Homo sapiens: one gene and its partner. The protein of the gene in region 1 interacts with the protein of each later gene in a pairwise test. Each region holds a gene or a part of one and is shown on either strand. Other genes may lie near its edges. The genes, in order: MAIP1 and H4C7.

Evidence for each region.
Region 2: the proteins of MAIP1 (region 1) and H4C7 interact in binary tests that used the Homo sapiens proteins (3 or more experiments, as listed by UniProt).

Annotation. Positions count from the first base shown.
Region 1 is NC_000002.12:199,961,348-199,964,700, reverse strand, and holds the end of MAIP1 (m-AAA protease-interacting protein 1, mitochondrial isoform 1 precursor), read right to left. Parts: intron 2,921-3,353; coding exon 2,773-2,920; intron 2,736-2,772; exon of another isoform or gene 2,594-2,735; intron 969-2,593; coding exon 890-968; 3' UTR 584-889; downstream 1-583. UniProt on the Homo sapiens protein: Promotes sorting of SMDT1/EMRE in mitochondria by ensuring its maturation.
Region 2 is NC_000006.12:26,245,797-26,248,247, forward strand, and holds H4C7 (histone H4-like protein type G), read right to left. Parts: upstream 1,201-2,451; 5' UTR 1,182-1,200; coding exon 885-1,181; 3' UTR 815-884; downstream 1-814. UniProt on the Homo sapiens protein: Core component of nucleosome. Nucleosomes wrap and compact DNA into chromatin, limiting DNA accessibility to the cellular machineries which require DNA as a template.

The DNA of each region.
Region 1 (3,353 bases):
CGAGACCAGCCTGGCTAACATGGTGAAACCCTGTCTCTACTAAAAATACAAAAAAAAATTAGCTGGGCATGGTGGTGCACACCTGTAGTCCCAGCTACAAGGGAGGCTGAGGCAGGAGAATTGCTTCAACCCAGGAGGTGGAGGTTGCAGTGAACTGAGATCATACCACTATACTCCAGCCTGGGCAACAGAGGGAGACTCCGTCAAAAAAAAAAGTGTAAATGTATTAGCCACAAATAAAATATTTAAGAACTATTAATTTAGAAATGTGTAAGTAGGCTGGGTGCAGTGGCTCATGCCTATAATCCTAGCTCTTTGGGAGGCCGAGGCAGAACCACTTGAGGAGTTCAAGACCAGCTGGGCAACATAGTGAAATCTCTATAAAAATTTTTTAAAATTAGCCAGCCATGCTGGTGGATGCCTGTAGTCCCAGCTACTCTGAAGGCTGAGGCAGGGGGATCGCTCAAGCCCAGGAGCTCGACGTTACAGTGAACTATGATCATGCCACTGGACTTCATCCAGGGAGACAGAGCAAGACCCTGTTTCTCAAACAATTTAAAAAATATATAAAGAAATTTGTAAGTAGTTTTTTCAATACCTTCTTTATTATGTCTATAAAATTATATGTAGCATTGGAAATGTTATTGAATATGACACCAACAACGTGCTATTGTATTTTTTAAATTTTGACTTCTTTTAAAGAAGGTGATAACAATCTGTGGAAAATGCTTTTACTGTATCATGCCAATATACTGCAAGGAGTATTTCAAAATAATATAAAAGTAATTCACAGACTTAGATTAAGTGAAGATCAAATGACCCCAAAATTTTTCTTCCTTAGTTTTTCACAGCAACTGCTAAAGTCCATAAGCTGATTTTTCCAAGAAAATTATTCTAATAATTTTGAGTGTTCAATCCGTGCAATGGTCCAGTCAGGCTTTACTCCTTGTGTGAACTCCCTCTGAAACCTAGGAAAGACATTGCAAATAATGTAAATCTTACATCAGTCCAAGTATGTGTTAGATAACTATGTAATTTGCAAGTGTATATTTAGAAGAATTTTTGGCAACAAGATAATGGTTAATATTAAATCAAAATCAAAACAAAAAAAAGTTTAACCTACCCATTCAATCACAATAAATATACCCACAAAATTGAAGTACATTCTCAAGTAATGTAAGTATTTTTAATGGACTAATCTATATTCAACATCTACCAGCCCCTAAGAGAAACTTGGATATATGTGTTATATAAATAACACATATAGCTAGTATGTGTTAAATACTAGCTATAACACATGCCTAATATGAGGACAGATAAACTGGACTCTGGTGATGCAAACAGCACTTTAAATACATAACCTAGGATACAGGCAAAAAGCTATTTTTCAAATAGCACTGTTACCAATTTAGGAATAAATAGTGGAATTTAGTTTACATACATTAAATCAATCTTGAAAATAACAATGTTTATGAAGTACCCATAGTCTTAGTAAGAAACATCAGAAAAGATAAAGTTTAGTATTGACGACAGTGCTCTTTAAAAATTATTTCTTAACAGGCAATTCAGTAGATTTAAATTAAGTATTTAAATATATAGAATATTTTGGGTAATTACAAATAAAGCAAAATTTAAAAAAACACATTTCTTTTAAGAAGAGCAAAAAAAAAATGAGGATATAATTCTCTTTTACCTTAGTAAAACAGAATACATTTTATTTCTTAGGTCATTTTTGGGGTTTGTTATTTTGAAGCAGATTTGTGTAACTCTGGCAACATATTTTTTTAATAAATGTTAAATTATATCTTCACTGACTTGCTCCAGCAGTTCACTGTTCTAGATTTTATTCGCATAAAAATACAATATAATGTCTCTTTTACGTAACTTGCTAACTTCCTACTATACAGTATGTGCTTAAGGGCAGTATCCCTTCAACTTTGTATCTGAACCTCTACCAGAGCATGTGGGCACACAGATGACCAACAGATGTCTAGTGAATAAATTGTTCATGTACCAATTATGGCAGATTTTATTTTCCAAAAATGACCACAACCATATCTCCCCTCCCATGTGCTCTTCTGCTATGTGGCCTTGCTGGTTTTTGCCCCAAAAAATGGGGGAGTCTTTCTACACCCTTTAAACTATACAGATCCTTTGACTGCTTTGACAAGTAGACTATGGCAGAACTGATGTTCTAATTCTGGGCATAGCCCTTTACTGGTTTAGCAGCTTCCATTTTCTGCCTCCTAGAATTCAACCACTATATGAAAGATATGACTAGTCTGAAACTACCACAAGTCCAAGCCACAAAGAGTGGCCCTGGAGAATACAGAGTCATGCAGAAGCCAAGGAGTACCAAGGTGCCACCCATGCGAGTTAAGAAGTCACTGTGGAAATGAATCCTCCAGCTCCTGCCACTCGTGTTGATGCCAGGTGAAGCAGAGAAAACCCCCTAACTGAGCCTATCCAAAATTTCTGAGCAGTGAAATAGCAGGCAAAGTCAATGGCTGTTTGAAGCCAATGAATTTGGGGGTAGTTTGTTAAGCAGCAATAGACAGCTAAAACATCATTTAATTAAATTCAGCAACTTTACCTCTTTCTAATTTCTTAACTCTCCTGTTTCATATCCAGTGTGTCTTTCTGACCTTTTCTCTTCATAAATAACTTGTCAAATTTCAATTCTTTTCTTCCTAAAGATCTCTTAGTTTTCATACCTTCACACTACCTTCCATTTTCTGAAGAAAGGAAACAATGAAATCTGATTAAACTTACTCATAGCTTGCACTAAGAAGTTGTTTAGTTTCCACATTCTGATTCCCCAACTTAACCTGGAATACACTGGCTCCTCTTAAAGTTTCACTGGGGATGTTGGCACTGGTTAGATACCAAAAGCACATCAGGATGTTAACAAACTTCCTTCCTTAGAGAAAAAACATATACACACATACGAATACAAATCAAAATAATCTATCATCCATATAAACAAAATGAAATCAGAAATTGGCAGCAGTTATACAGTTGTTACAGGTCAAATTTTGTGCTTATTCTGATGTGACTTAAAATACTTGTATTGATACTATTTTATTTTTAGAAAATTGTCTTAGGGTTTATGGCATACTTGCCCTCTTCTCTGTATCTCAGTAATAAAACTACTACTTAACTGAGCACGTACTTTACTAAGTATACTACATGGATTATTTTCAATTAGTGGCATTTTCTTTTTCTTTCTCTTTTTTTGACACAGAGTCTCACTCTGTCACCCGGGCTGGGGTGCAGTGGCGCAGTATCGGCTCACTGCAACTTCCGCCTCCCAGGCTCAAGCGATCCTCCCACCTCAGCCTCCTAAGTAGATG
Region 2 (2,451 bases), on another chromosome or scaffold:
GTTCAAGTTTCCTTGATTATCTCCAAAATGCCCTTTAAAACTTTAGAGACAGAATGCAATTAATACATTTAGTTGCTATGTTACTTTAATCTCCTTCAAACTTAAAGTCCTCCAGTTTTTCTCGGTGGCTTTTTGAACAAAGCAATTGTCCCAAATGTTCCACATTCTGGAAGGTTTTTTCCCCCTCTTGAGATGTTTAATTGGCTCTTTGACCCCTGTACTTTCATAAACAGTAAATTGAGACACGAATTATTGCAGTTACACCTTATCAAGGTGTTTCTATATTTACGATGGATCACAAGCAAAGGCACGAAACAGGTAAACTTCTTTTAGTGCTGCTAAATTAGATCATTGAACTAGCAAGGGGGCCAGTCCCTCCACTGCAGACACATTTGTCAGAACGGCACCTGGCAAGTTTGTGCTAATTATTGTGTATTCTCTGGTTATTGAAATTGCTTATTAAGCAGAATATAAAAGTCGGGTTATCTTGGCACTAAAACTACAATTTTAATTACGGAGGGTAATCCTAACAGTAAGGAGAAAAACACACTACCATAACCACATTTTGAGAGCTTTTAAGTGACAATGTAGCCGTTGATGTCCTCAGCCAGCCCACCAGATTTCTAATCTCTGAACACACGATTAACTTACCACCTGTATTCCATGTTGTATGTCAGCCTTGGCGTAAATTTATACTTTACAGCATTATACACCTAACAGCTTTTGGGCACCTACAGCAATAAAACACACAATATTGCTGAGTGCGTTAGTTAAGTTTCCACAATGTCAAACGTGAGCCCTTCGGAAGAAAACGTACGCGGCCCTGAAAAGGGCCATTAACGATATTGCAAGGAAAGGCCTGGCCTCACTTAACCGCCAAAGCCTTACAGGGTTCTTCCCTGGCGTTTGAGCACGTAGACCACGGCCATGGCGGTGACCGTCTTGCGCTTGGCGTGCTCCGTGTTGGTCACGGCGTACCAGATCACATTTTCCAGGAACACCTTGAACACCCGGCGGGTCTCCTCATAAATGAGGCCCAAGATGCGCTTGACACCGCCATGCCGGGCCAAGCGCCGGATAGTGCACTTGGTAATGCCCTGAATATTATCGCTCAGTACCTTGCGATGGCACTTGGCACCGCCTTTCCCAAGGCCTTTTCCGGCCTTGCCCCGAACAGACATGATAAACAAGTCAGAACTATCTCTAAACAAAACGATTACTCGCTTTCCGCAGCCTTTTATATAACGGTAGAGTAGACCTTTTTGAAAACTGAAAGACCAGGAAAGGCGGGAAAACGTATTCAGTCCCCGCTCATCTACTTCTAGTAATAACAAGACATAAGAAATTCTCTTGTAGTAGGGAGATTTGCTGGCATTTAGAGAATAAGGATCTCTAAACGAAAGTGTCAAACATGTACCTAGAGGAAAGTATCTCGATTTTTGATGTCTGTATGTGTTTAAAGATTTACTCCTGGCCGGGCGCGGTGGCTCACGCCTGTAATCCCAGCACTTTTGGAGGCCGAGGCGGGCGGATCACGAGCTCAGGAGATCGAGACCATCCTGGCTAACACGGTGAAACCCTGTCTCTAATAAAAATACAAAAAATTAGCAGGGCGAGGTGGCGGGCGCCTGTAGTCCCAGCTATGCAGGAGGCTGAGGCAGAAGAATGGCATGAACCCCGTGGGGTGGAGCCTGCAGTGAGCCGAGATCACGTCACTGCACTCTAGCCTGGGCAAGGGCGAAGCCCGTCTCAAAAAAGAAAAAAAAAAGATTTACTCCTTCCCTGTATATTAGAGCATTTACCATGCTGAAGTTGAAACAAGCCCAAATTCCAAGACATAAAAGAATTCCTAATCATATTGCCAAGCCGCCCAGCTAAAGAGAAGTAGCCTGGTTTTTGGTTTCGAATCTGTGAGTGACTGCTCTCTCACCGATATTAGACATGTTAATCTGAGTTTCAATGGCCCTATCTGTAAAAAGGGTAAATACTTGTTAATAATTGAGTTACTTTAAGCAAAACACTGGCATATAGTTAGTAAATGATTTTTTTTTAAAATACGGAGTTTCGCTCTTGTTGCCCAGGCTGGAGTGCAATGGCGCAATCTCTGCCCACTGCAACCTCCACCTTCTGGGTTCAAGCTATTCTCCTACCTCGGCCTCCCAAGTAGCTGGAATTACAGGTATGTGCCACCACTCCCGGCTCATTTTTGTATTTTAGTAGAGACCAGATTTCACGTTGGCCAGGCTGGTCTCCAACTCCTGCCCTCAGGTGATCCGCCCGCCTTGGCCTCCCAAAGTGCTGGGATTACAGGCGTGAGCCACCTCACCGGCCAGTTGGTAAACGAATTCTTATTGCCACAGCCTTTTTTTACAGACAAAATAATAATGCAGAGGTAAAGCACACCGAAGGATTTTAAAACATTGCCTTTGCAACACCAATACATTCAGTGTG